Linked DNA regions of Homo sapiens: all the other regions are reported to be linked to region 1. The links are microRNA targets in miRTarBase. Many come from high-throughput screens and were not tested one by one. Region 1 holds a microRNA gene; each other region holds the end of a gene's coding sequence.

What was found. The annotated mature microRNA hsa-miR-6818-5p reads UUGUGUGAGUACAGAGAGCAUC and lies in region 1 at 2,304-2,325, opposite strand. An mRNA with a match to its seed (bases 2 to 7 or 8) in the 3' UTR can be bound and repressed. Matches are read on the target gene's strand: a 7mer-m8 pairs with bases 2 to 8, a 7mer-A1 pairs with bases 2 to 7 and ends in A, and an 8mer does both.
Region 2: the mRNA of GLRA3 is a reported target of hsa-miR-6818-5p. Seed matches in the 3' UTR shown: 7mer-A1 at 212-218.
Region 3: the mRNA of EFNB1 is a reported target of hsa-miR-6818-5p. Seed matches in the 3' UTR shown: 7mer-A1 at 1,947-1,953.
Region 4: miRTarBase lists FBXL20 as a target of hsa-miR-6818-5p. The part of its 3' UTR that is shown has no 7-base or 8-base seed match.

The regions. Positions count from the first base shown.
Region 1 is chr22:30,006,163-30,009,378 of GRCh38, reverse strand. It overlaps MIR6818 (microRNA 6818), which reads right to left and starts at 2,330; the gene lies at 2,266-2,330. It overlaps MTMR3 (myotubularin related protein 3), which reads right to left. Exons shown (of 20, transcript NM_021090.4): 10 at 2,060-2,265; 11 at 1,347-1,478; 12 at 250-361. It overlaps HORMAD2-AS1 (HORMAD2 and MTMR3 antisense RNA 1), which reads left to right. Exons shown (of 5, transcript NR_110541.2): 5 at 183-633.
Region 2 is chr4:174,641,010-174,644,225 of GRCh38, forward strand. GLRA3 (glycine receptor alpha 3) reads right to left here. Exons shown (of 10, transcript NM_006529.4): 10 at 1-3,055. The coding sequence ends at 2,777. Among named protein-coding and RNA genes, the nearest start is that of HPGD, 120 kb to the left of the region's middle.
Region 3 is chrX:68,840,333-68,843,332 of GRCh38, reverse strand. EFNB1 (ephrin B1) reads right to left here. Exons shown (of 5, transcript NM_004429.5): 5 at 1,173-3,000. The coding sequence ends at 2,679. Among named protein-coding and RNA genes, the nearest start is that of EFNB1, 13 kb to the right of the region's middle.
Region 4 is chr17:39,258,653-39,261,753 of GRCh38, reverse strand. FBXL20 (F-box and leucine rich repeat protein 20) reads left to right here. Exons shown (of 15, transcript NM_032875.3): 15 at 187-3,101. The coding sequence ends at 294. Among named protein-coding and RNA genes, the nearest start is that of STAC2, 34 kb to the right of the region's middle.

The sequences.
Region 1 (3,216 bases):
TGTGCTGCAGATTTTAAAACCTTTCAAATGGCTGTATTTTCTCCCAACTCTTCCTCTGTGCTGCCACATTTCAGACCCAGCAAGGAGATACTTGCAGAGACTGGTCTGGTAACTGAAGATTACCAAGAAACAGAAGGAAAGACTGCTCCAAATTAATTTTTTTTTCTTTTTTTCCCCCTTAGTTCAAGGAAAGAAGCAAACTTATTATTTAAGAGCAATGCAAAATGAAAGCCAAGGCCAAGGACTTACTTTCCCGGATCTGGCATCTGAGTGCACAGCAACCGCAGAGACTGAAAACTCCTCCGAATAGAATGAATGTTTGCCATCCCCATAAACACAACTTCACAGTTTGGGTAATACTCTGGAGAGAGTAACAATAAAGAGAACACAAATACGTTGAACTTAAAGCCCACATGGCCAAATTTAAAAGCAAACTGGCTATAAAACAAACCCACTGCAGCTTCTGATTAACGAAACTGAAATGTTTTGAAATGCTTAACTATTAGCCCAATCCTTTATAATAAGAGGAACACACTGAATTTTAGCTATCTTTTCAAAAAGCGTGAAAAGGGAAGGTTAGATTTGTAAAGAAGATACTGACATAAAATAAAAGCTATTATTTTTTAAAAGAAAGGCCTACTTCGATCTCACTCTGGCTTTACTTCTTGGGCCTTATCTAACTTGTGGCTTTGAAATCTCTTTGAAAAGAACTCCACAGAACAATGCGTTCACACATTCAAATTTCACCTTGGTACAGCTGCTTTCAATTTCCAGCTTAGACCACATCTGAACAAAGAGCCTGGTGCCTCTGCCTGTGCCATAGGCACTGAGGGGGGTCCCTCCTTGGGGAAAGCTAGCATTCCAACAGTAATGGTGTTACAGCTCAGGACAGAGATACCTTACTAGGGTTCTGTATTTACTGCTTCAATTTTCACCCCAGGTTTTCTAAGGAGAGGCCCTTGAGGAGTTTGCTACAAGGCCAGTGGTGAGCATACCCTCTGTCAAAGGCAACAAAAAGCTTTTAGACGGCTGAGAAATTGAGCCCACTAAAGCAGCAGCTTCCAAACATGAACAGGTCTTATTATGGGGAAGATCTGCTTTCCTTATCACCTACAAGTTGGCACAAGGAAGGAAGATTATGTGACTTCACTGCACCTCCTCCTCCATTTCTCCTCAGAAAAGAACATACAGTGTTAAGAATCCAAAGAGAAGCTCTGGCACTCTCACGACAGGATGGATGAGGAATATGGCTTGCCACTTATTTCAAATTGGGAACTAAGTCTCAGTTGGGCAAGGGCTACACTCACAAGGAGAAAGTATGGGGAACAAAGCACCATACACCTCACCTGGGCATTCGCAGCCTCCTCCTTTGGCTCGGTTTGCCACAGCAGCTGCATAGGAGCGTGCATCCAAGATCAAAAGCTTCTGCGGTTGGATGGCTAAACTCTCTGCTCCTGAAGCATTTGACAGAGAAGAATCTAGGGACACAGAGGGAGAGGGCATACTAAATGAGCCTGTCTCTCCCAGAACTGTGCAGAATTAGACCCACAAGCACATCTTATGGCACAAAAAAGGCTCAATAAAATGAAATCCCCTAACCAAAACCCTTGATACATAGGATTTTTCTCTTTTTTTCTATGTGGCCTTCTTATGAAAGATGAGAAGGATTTATTCTCCAAAACTGACTCCCAGAGTACACATGGGGTTCACACAGCCCAGTCTCTTATACTTCATTTCTGTATCTGTTGTCCTTTCATGAAGCCTGGCATTTCCTGCCATGGTCTGCAGATACTGCAAGTCCTCTATTACATAAACACTCCATTTTTGTCACAATGGCAAGAAAGACAACAAACACACTAATATCTTGATTCAGGTTTGAAACAAAGGGTCTTCTGATTCTCTGCCAAGACCCATGACTCCTCAATCAATCCCATCAAGTGAAGCTCTGCACATTCACTTCTATAAAAGTAAATCTATGTCTTGTAAGGAAGAGGCCATTTCAAGAAAAGGTTCTTAGATGCTATAAAAATCATTGCCATGGGTCCAGGGAGCACCTTACCGAACTCCACGTCAGAAAGGTCTCCCCCATTGGGAAAGTCTCGAGAAGTGTTCCTAGTTGACAGCTTGCTGCCACTCGATCGGGAGTCAGAGGCACAAGCTTTGGCTACTGACTGTACCAGATGCTCATCATCTGCATTTCGCCAGCCCCACCAGCTAACCTCTGGCTGTCCACAGCGGGCAATGACAGCTCCATTGCTCTGGTGCCTGTGTGAGGAACAAGAGACAACAACTGTACCCATTCAGATGCTCTCTGTACTCACACAAAATAGATTTTAAGTGCCTTAATGAACAGTCTAATTCTAGGTAAGTGTTGGGTCAGCTTCAAGTCCTCTCAGTATTAAAGAGGGTAGAAATCTTACACAACCAACAAGAACAAACAACAAAACCTGTGTGTCTTTCTCAATTACCATAACATCACGGAGATCCCTGTAAAGTTACCCAAAAAAATGACTAACAGGGGTCAGGCATGGAGGCTCACTCTGCAATCCCAGCACTTTGAGAGGCTGAGGCAGGAGGATCACTTGAGCCCAGGAGTTCAAGACCAGCCTGAGCAACATAGCAAGACCCCATCTTTACAAAAAAGTTTTTACAAATTAGCCAGGCATGGTAGCACATGCCTGTAGTCGCAGCTACTCAGGAGGCTGAGGTGGAAGGATCCCTTGAACCCAGAAGGCTGAAGTTGCAGAAAGCTATGATTGTGCCACTGCACTCCAGCACTCCAGCTTGGGTGACAGAGCAAGACCCCATTTCCAAAAAACAAAAAAGAATTAATGTGTACTCTTAGTGAAAATAAATCAATATTCGTAACTTAAATCTATAGGTACTACACTAATTCTGCTACCCAATAGTGAAATCTGCTACCTTCTTAATGCTGAACCAAGAGCCCGCCTCTGGGAATAAAACATTTACCTGGCCCACAGTGAACTGCTTTACAAAATCTCCTGAGATTTCATGAGTCACAGACTGCTCTTATAATAGGCAGATAGCTCAATGAGCCAGCTACCCTTCCTAGGGCTCTTAAGAAAGAGAAGAAGAGCATCAACCTCAGAAAACCATACTCTGACATATCCTTTTCCAATAAGACAGACCAGAAATCACAGTCTACTTTAAGGTGCTATTAAAACCCAGACTTTTCCTAGTTAGGCAATTTTAACT
Region 2 (3,216 bases), not on the chromosome of region 1:
AATGGTTGGGAAAGAAAGAAAAGGTTGGGCACATATATGCTAATGTATAAGATAGCCTATAAATTCATATGCTATGGAATCAAATATTTCAATGATTGACATACAAATAATTCTTTTTAAGAAAATGATATAAACTGCATACATGAAAATCCCATATTTTCTAATGTGGCTATTTTAAAATACTTCAGAATATGCACATTGGAATTCCAATTTGTGTGTTTAGTAGTTAATGTATATGCACACATTTTTAATTTCTTGCCATTAATAATTTTGTGGTTGGTTTAATTTAAAATATTCTGGTTGGACACAGGGCTTATTGAGGCAAATATTATCTCAGGATGCTAACTGCAATGTAATTTTTCAGTTTTAAAAGGTCTATAAGAGTTCGAAGGAGGAGACACATTCCTTTAAACATATTGGATTCAGCCACATGCACCTTGTCACTGTTGCCTTGTGAGTGAAAGCTGTTAAAGTATTTTCTTAGTGCAGTAAGACAGTGACAAATATAATAGGAAAGGAAAACTATGCCTAAGGAAAGTGTAATACTTTTGAGATAGATTTCTAATGTACCAACGTCCTTGTTGACAATATTGTCTCATGTTTGGTATTTTCACTTTCTAAGTTTCTGATTTAACAAAGACACATTTATAATATTCTCAAATATGGAAAGAAGTGATGTCTGTGAATTTCTTTTGGAAGTAAGCATGTTTGCATTCATTATATTTCTGTTTGCTCCTGGCAGAATTCACTTAAGCAATGTTGGGAAACTTTTGAAATAAGATGTGGAAAGTATAGAAAAACGTATTCAGGTATTTCAGAGACACATCGAGATGATGTAGTTTATAATTACCTCAAACTCTCCTGCTAATTCTCAAGGAATACAAATGACATATCTTGCTCTAATCTTTAGAACAAGAATATGTTTCCATGGTTTTGTTAAATACACACCAAATGAAGAAGCATATGTTTAATTTTCAGGTGCACAGTCCTCAACGTGGGTACTTACAGAGTAACAAATTCTTTTGGTTGTGTCATTTGCACATAATGCCAAACATGATATTATTTCCTTATAGTGTTGTTTTAAGTTACTTATAAAGGAGGGGAACTTGGTCTTTTACTAGCAAAAACTGCTTAACATTTACTATTTTTTAAAATGTTATTTTAAAAAATTACAATTGTATAAGCTGATGTACAATAACATTGTAAAGGTTTTAGTTTTAAATGGTAGTTTTTGCTTTTAATTTGAAAGTGGTTGAAGGGTAGAAAATAGCATCTTGTTAAAGAACTGGCTTTTCTATTGTACATCTGAGTTCATTGTTTTCTTAATCTTTAAAGTTTTCTCTGTGAATAATTTGGTGGACTGAGTTTGTGCATCTGACCAATAATTAAAATACCTAAAAAGCATTCCAAAGCTTTTCCAAATAAATTTATGGTAAAAATAGTTAAAAAAATAGCAAAACTGAAAAAGAGTCAGAGTCTGGTTCTGTTTACCAAGAACTCTATCATACATTTGCACCCAATTACACTGCAAAAAACAAGTTACTAATGCTCTGTTTTTGTTGAAGTAATCCCATGGGGTCATTGAAAAATTTTATGTAAAAATTTCATTTAAAATTATTCACATCTTGCGAATGGCTTAGATTTTGAAATCATTAATTCAGAAATAGAAAAAGAGTCCTCACTTTATAGAAATGACTTACTTATATCATTTAAAATTAAAACTTTCCCTACTTATATTTGGAGATAGGAGTTGAGACCCATAAAACATTGATGGGAAAATGGTTTTTATTAAAAAATCTTCCATGAATCCATTTTGTTTTCATTGTATTCATTTTTATCAAAATGTAAATACTTTAATCCCATTGAATTTTAAAGTCACATTCTAAACTAAAATATAAAAGTCTTACTGAATTTTGTCCTGTTATATCAAATTATTAAACACAATCACATACAGTTAAGTAGCTATTAAAAGTCTAACAAAAACAAGGGTGCTGGCTTGAATTGTTCAATGTTTGGCAATAACTAAAAATACATAGCTATAATACTTATTTAAAAACAAAGTTGTTTCCCGTATTTCCACCTTCGTTCCTAGAGATACAAAGTTTAAGAAAAGTAGATTGTGACTGTAACACGATCTCTTGTTATTTGTTTTAAATTTGCACAGAGGAAAACTTAATATTCTAAACAATTAAATTTAGTATTCCAAATCATTAAAGTCTTTTAATGCTCTTATTTAAAAATTTTCAAAATTACATATGTTGTTTAAATAGTATTTATATGTACAATCCTCCATTAATATGAGTGAATTTCCCACTGTAACTAATTATTTTCCCATTTTGTAACTATACTATAAGAAAATAGTTTTAAATCTCAAACTATTGGTTTACTGTGCAAAATTTGCTTTTGTATGATTTAATAGCATTGAATTACAAATCAAGGAATTTCAAAGTAGTTTTCATGTCTACTATTATGAGATATTATATAACATATAAACACATTGGCAGTAAAGCTTCCACTTACATGGTTTACTGTGAAAAAACAAATCACCTGGAATTAATATGAAATAGAATCCCCTAATAAATATTTTATATTCATTAAAAGAATCTCATCTTTCTCATGACTTTGCATAGCTAACCAAAATACAAAGCTTTTCCATATGCCATTTTAATACAATGGTCATCATTTGTATACCACACGCACACATATACACATACACACCTATGGCAGAGACACTTTCTTCTGAATTGACCATTTGCATTTGCATGCCCCCAGAGACTTAATCTTGCTGCTGATGAATATCCTCATGCCTAAGAATTTTATAGATAACCCAGTAGAAAATATTAAAAATCAAAAAAGCTAATGGGAAGCAGGCTCGGGAGATGGTATCAATCTTCTTGGCCCGGTCGATAAAGACCTTCCTCATTTCATCAGGACTTTTTGGCATTACCTGGACAGGGTGGTTGGGGCCCTTTGGAGTCATGCCATCCTTTGCTTGTAGACATGGTCCCATTCCATAGGCTGTGAAGCTGAATCGGCTTTCCCTTACCTCATCATCCTGTCAAAGAAAAATGTGACAAGGCCCTTTAATAATACAATAGAGCATGTATAACAGGCATCTCAGAATCATAACCAATTTTATCATGGTTAATATTTACATTAATATAAGGAAAAGATAACCGAAGCATATAAAGATGAATTGGTTTTTATTCCCTATTG
Region 3 (3,000 bases), not on the chromosome of region 1:
AGCAGAGGCTCCATCTGATCCAGGCACTTCCTTTGGTTAATGAGAAACCAAATAAACAGCCTCTGCCCCAGCTGGCTCCAGGAGCACCCCAGCCAGGCCCAGCCCTACACTAGCCCAACCTTCCTTCCCTCCGCCTGCAGGCCCTGTGGCTTTCCGCCCCCTTTCTTCTCCACCAGCTCCCCACTTCCCTCATAGCCCGGGTGGCACCTTGGCTAATTCTCTGGGGCTTCCTACTCTGGATCACTCTCTCTCTCCTTCTTCTTCCTCTTTCCTCTGCTGCCTTCTACCCCATTTTTAGCTGCTGGATCTCACTTGTCCTCTTCCCCTGACATCTGTCTTAGCCGTCTCCACAGGGAGTCCCCCCACAAGACCAGCAGGCGGCTCCAGGCTGGAGCAGGAAGGCTCCAGGCCCTGCCAGTCTGCCTCTCCGCTGTGGGATGGAGGCCAAACCCTCTTCAGGGCCCTCACCACACTCTTTGACTTGAGCAAGTTACTCATCAGCCTGTGGGAGGTAGACCGGGTGCTCAAGGCTGCTCTAGCTTGAGGGTATCGACTGCTGGCCAGAAGCCCCCAACTATGCCATGGTGGTGGCTGTGGTGTGGCCCAGCTCAGAAGCAAGATTCTTCTGGCTGAGAGGTGAACTGGGCAGCCTGAAGCAGGCCCAATACCCAGTAGGCTGCAGCTGAAGTTCAGATCTTGGGAAGTTATTTCTATCCACCTCCAGGCGTCCTGAGGCAGGGCAGGGCTGGGCCTGCCAGCAGGTCCCAGATCTAGCCCCAGCTAGGTGGTGGCAGTACTTTGTGGACACACCCAGGTCCCCATGGGAACATCCCCTCCTCCATTAACCCTCTCTAACTGGGCCTGTGCCAGACTGGGCAGATGCCCGTGGCCTATGCCACAGAGGTGACAGGATGAACAGGGGAAATGGTCTCAGGCTCCATGACAGCAGAACAAGAGAGCAGAAAAACCTGGGGTGAGGGGAGTGGCAGGAGGGTCATAGGGCATTAAAACATCTTGCTCCACTAGGATAGCCATCATCTGCCCGTACCTGCCCCAGTCACCAGTGGTTTGAGCACAGGAAAGCGCACACACACACACCCCCACCACACACGCACGCACACAACTCTCACTCTCCATTTCCCAACATCACGACACCATTTTACACCCATTTCTCCATGTGGTTAATTTTTTTTTTTTAGTTCTCATTTTTTTCTAAGAAAAAAGCAACAAGAAAATAATTCAGAGTTTATACAAAACATCTTTACATTATTTTTTTTCCAAAAAGACTAGTATTTACACAAATGGCAACAGAAACAAAAACAAAAACCCTTCCGACTGCCACCTGGAAGGGGCTGGCTGTTCTGCTCCCTCTCCCACCTGGCACTGGGGTGGGCAGCTGGCCAGGAGGCAGTGTGGAGGTGGATGGTGTGAGGGCCAGCTCCTTCCATGGCTGCTCTGGGAGTGCCTGCAAGGCGCACTCAAGTGGCAGTCTGTTAGCAGCCGTGCTGGCAAGGAACTGGGGTCAAAGTGCACAGCGGGCTGGCCCAGCCCCAGGCAGCCTCTTCCTCTTTCCAGGCCCCAGCCCAAGACTGGGACAGCAGCAGGAGCTGGGTTGGGTGGGGGTTACCCACCTGTGCTAGGGCCCAGAAAAGGAGCAGGCCACCTGGTCTTATACCCGCTTAGGTCTCCACCCTGGGCCTCTGTTTCCCCACCAGGCCAAAGGATGCCAAAGGTAAGGAGAGAACAGGGTGGGGGGTGGGGGTGAAACTCCCAGCTCTGCAGGGCAAATAGCCACCTGGGCACCTCACCTCCCTCCACCCCCCATGAGGTCATCTGCCTGCAGCAGCTCTCCTGTTCCCCAGGCAACAGCCAATTAAGACATTAATTACCGTGAGAGTGAGGGAGGCAGGAGATGCCCAAGAATCCCACAAGGAAGGGATTTTTTTTTGTGTGTGTGTGTGTGTGTGTGTGTGTGGAAGGGTGGCAGTGACTACCCCATTGCCAGGATAAGCCTCGTAGGAGGGTCAGGAGGGGAGGGTGGGACACCTTGCCCAGTGGCACTTTCCTCTTCCCTCATGGGCGTGAACAGCCCTGGCCTGCCCCTTACCCCACCAGAAATACCAAGGAATCTATAAAAGAAATGGCATCCTATGCTTCCTGGCTGACCACATCGTGCCCCAGGCCCTCTTGTACTGGCTTGGGCCAGGCTCACAAAGCCTGGGGAGGGGCTGCCTTTTACATTTTTCCATTTTTCTTCAAAAAACAGATGAAAATGAGTTGACAGCTAAAAAATGAACACAAAAGCATTAAAAACAGTGATGATAGCGGACAAGCAGTCCTGGGAAGGTGGCAAGGGGGGCGAGGGAGGGGCAGGGCCAGGGGACTGTCTCCCTGCCTGCTGTCCATCAGTGTCCAGCCCTGCCTTCCAAGAAGGGGCGCCCCCACGGAGCCCAGAGGCCTGGCCAGAGGGGGAAGGCACAAGAGCATGGGGGTTAGGGGCACAAGCACCCCCCTCCGAAGCCCAGGGGGCAGGGAAAAAGGGGGATTATAAAAGCCAAGAAACTACAAAACTAAATACAAAGGTGGGCACAGCTGGCAAGGGGAGGGGGTGTGGGGGCGAAAGGAGAGGTCCGGTCCAGGCCGACTGTCCCTCGGGGGCCTGAGGCCGTGCCGGGCACTCAGACCTTGTAGTAGATGTTCGCCGGGCTCTGGGGCGGCATCTCTTGGACGATGTAGACAGGGTGCCCGTAGTCCCCACTCACCTTCTCATAGTGGGGGCAGTAGTTGTTCTCTGTAGTCCGTAAGGGAATGATGATGTCGCTGGGCTCGGTGCCCGCTGTGCCACTGCCCCCCTTGGGACTGGCCAGGGTACTGAGCGAGAGGGCAGCCGCCCGCTGCTGTGTGTGCTTGCGGTGCCGCTTGCGTAGCTTCAGTAGTAGGACCGTCAGGAAGATGATGATGAGCAGGAAGATGACGCAACCGGCACCGACAGCCGCGAAC
Region 4 (3,101 bases), not on the chromosome of region 1:
TCTGGTCATTGAGAACAACCTAGGATGGAACAAAGTAGAACCCAGGCCCTCTAACATCCTGACCAGTGCTCAGCCTTTGCCCTGCTTTTATGTTCATTGAGCCCCTCGGTAGTTTTTCTAAGAACCAACATTGCTCTTTCTGTTTAAGCCCTCTCTTAAACGTTTAATGTTTCTGTCTTGTTTCAGACCCATTTACCCAATATTAAAGTCCACGCCTACTTCGCACCTGTCACTCCACCCCCATCAGTAGGGGGCAGCAGACAGCGCTTCTGCAGATGCTGCATCATCCTATGACAATGGAGGTGGTCAACCTTGGCGAACTGAGTATTTAATGACACTTCTAGAGCTACCGTGGAGTCTCTCCAGTGGAAGCAACCCCAGTGTTCTGAGCAAGGGTTACAAAGTGAGGGAGGGCAGTGTCCAGATCCCCAGAGCCACACATACATACACATACACACCCTTACCCCCATCCACTCTAGCTTTGTGACCATGGGACTGAAGTTTGTGATGGCTTTTTTATCAAGTAGATTGGTAAAATTTAACCATTCCTGTTGAGGTGCCCATAAGAAAATCATAGGCCAAGATAGGGAGGGGCATTCCAGCAAACCCCGTGTTAATGCTACTGTGGTTTTTAAATTTTTGTCTAGGGGTTTCTTTGGGGATTTTAGAACAGCATCTGCTGTCCTCCGGGGTCAAGAAAAGCATGGAAAGACAATATATGATGTACCCAGGGACCAGAAAGAAAATTTCTTTGCATCTTAGAAATGGTAGACATTCATTGTGACTAAAGAGCTTCTATGCTTCCTTGTTTCCATGCCAACATGCTGAGCATGCTCACAAAGAAGGCTCGTCCATTCCTCCTGTGTTTTAGTATTTGGCCCAGAGGTTTCCTAAATGGTTGCCTTGAAATCACTGTGGTCCAAATGTAATTCTTACACACTCAAATTATCACTGTCTGTAGCACACTTGTGCACCTGTCTTACATTCTCTGTTGCTCCCCCCCACACTCTTGCTCAGTCTGTCACCTGTTCAGTCTGCTTACTCACTCAATTGTTACCCTTTTGCTGTTGTCGTGTTTACAGTTTGCATTTTGAATGATTAGTTGGGATTACCAAACATTTTTTAAAAAGATATTATCAATAAATATTTTTTTAATTCTAAATTTTACCATTAGGGGACCCTGCCTGAATCTTTGCCAACCTGCAAGGAAACTCTAATGAAAGCAAGAAAAGTTATGAGAAGAAACTGTTTTGATGAAAACAGATGCTACCTTTTGGTTTCTATTTTATCTTCTGATATGTGATAATTCGCATGGTATCCCCAATATTCCCCCTACATATTCTTCCTTCTGTCAGACTCCACCAACTGTATCATAAGGAAAGAGAGAGATGTATTATTAGGAAAGAGTGAAAATGATAAATCACAAAACAGAGCCTGAAAGTCCCCAACACCCAAGTTCAGACATTAATGATTAATGTTATTATATATTTACTGAAATCTAGGAGTGATCAGTGGCATCTCTGACCTATGAGGTTGTTTTAACAGGAATGCCACTAGAGGAGCTGTGTATTCTAGCCAGTCTGTTTCTCTCTTTTCCCCCATTTCAGCCTTTCAGGGATACAAGAATGGCTCTATAACAGCTGGTCAATTGTATGTCAGTGTTAATGGATTCATATCTAGTGTTGGCACCCCAAAGGGCCAGAACCTTCCCATAACCTGTCAGTCATCTCTCTTTTCTGCCCCAGTCTTTTTTTTTTTTTTTTTTTTTTTTTAAGACGGGTTCTCACTCTTGCCCAGACTGGAGTGCAGTGGTGCGATCTCGGCTCACCGCAACCTCCACTTCCCAGGCTCAAGCGATTCTCTTGCCTCAGCCTACCGAGTAGCTGGGATTACAGGCATGCACCACTACTGCCTGGCTAATTTTTGTATTTTTAGTAGAGATGGGGTTTCACATGTTGGCCAGCCTGGTCTTGAACTCCTGACCTCAAATGATCCACCTGCCTCAGCCTCCCAAAGTGCTGGGACTACAGGCATGAGCCACCATGCCCGGCCCTGTTCAGACTTCTGAATGAAGTATGAATGTAGCCAGGTGAAGCATTGAGGCAGCTGAAAGAGAACACTGAGAGGAAGTAAGGGGTTTAGTGTCTCTGCTTAGCCTGGGCACTAGAACTGAGGGAGGAATTTAGTGTCCAGGACTCAAGAGTCCAAGAAGAAGCACCCTCTGTCTTCCCAAAAAATCAGAGGATAAAGGAAGTAAAATGAGTTTTTAAAGCATAAGAAGAAAATTTCTAAACCCCAAGATTAGAAACCCAGTGTGATTTTTAGTAGGGTGATTTTGGCGGGGGGTGTCCTTTGAGACATTAATGTGCAATCCATCATAATATTAATCTTCTATATGATCCAGACTATTAAAAGGCTTGTTTTATTTATTTATTTTATTTTATTTTATTTTTTTAGAGATGGGGTCTCGCTATCTTGCCCAGCCTGGACTCAAACTCCTGGGCTCAAGCCTTCCTCCCACCTCAGCCTCCCAAGTAGCTGGGACTACAGGTGTGTGCCACTGTACCCAGCTTAAGAGGTTTGTTTTAATGCTGCAGTTGCTGATTATACCAGCATATATAAGAATAAAGTCTGATTTATTTATCCATTGATTTAGAAGGCAATTGGATGAAAGGGTCTTAGAAGTCTATACTATCCATTAATATTTATCATATTAAATTTATTTTAAATCCTGTTTTATTGTGCCGCTTTAAAAACGCAGATTACTTGTTTATTCATTCCCCTTTCCCCTTATTCTCTTTCAGATTACCTTATAAGGAATATAGTTTTTAACATGAAACTCAGTTTCTTGTCTGTACCCCTACACATAAAAATACATACGTGCATACACACATACTTCCAGATGTGGTTAATAATATTCAGATCCCTAGGTTACTCAAACAAAACTAAAGGAGAGAACTATTTAGGGGCCATCTGCTTTAAAGTTTAAGGTGTTTTGTTGTTGTTTTAGTGCCTGTACAAATTGACCATAAAACCCAGATTGATTAGTGAGTGTGGATTTGAGTTGCCTAAGTTGAGGCTATTAAGGTACTTCTTTACTT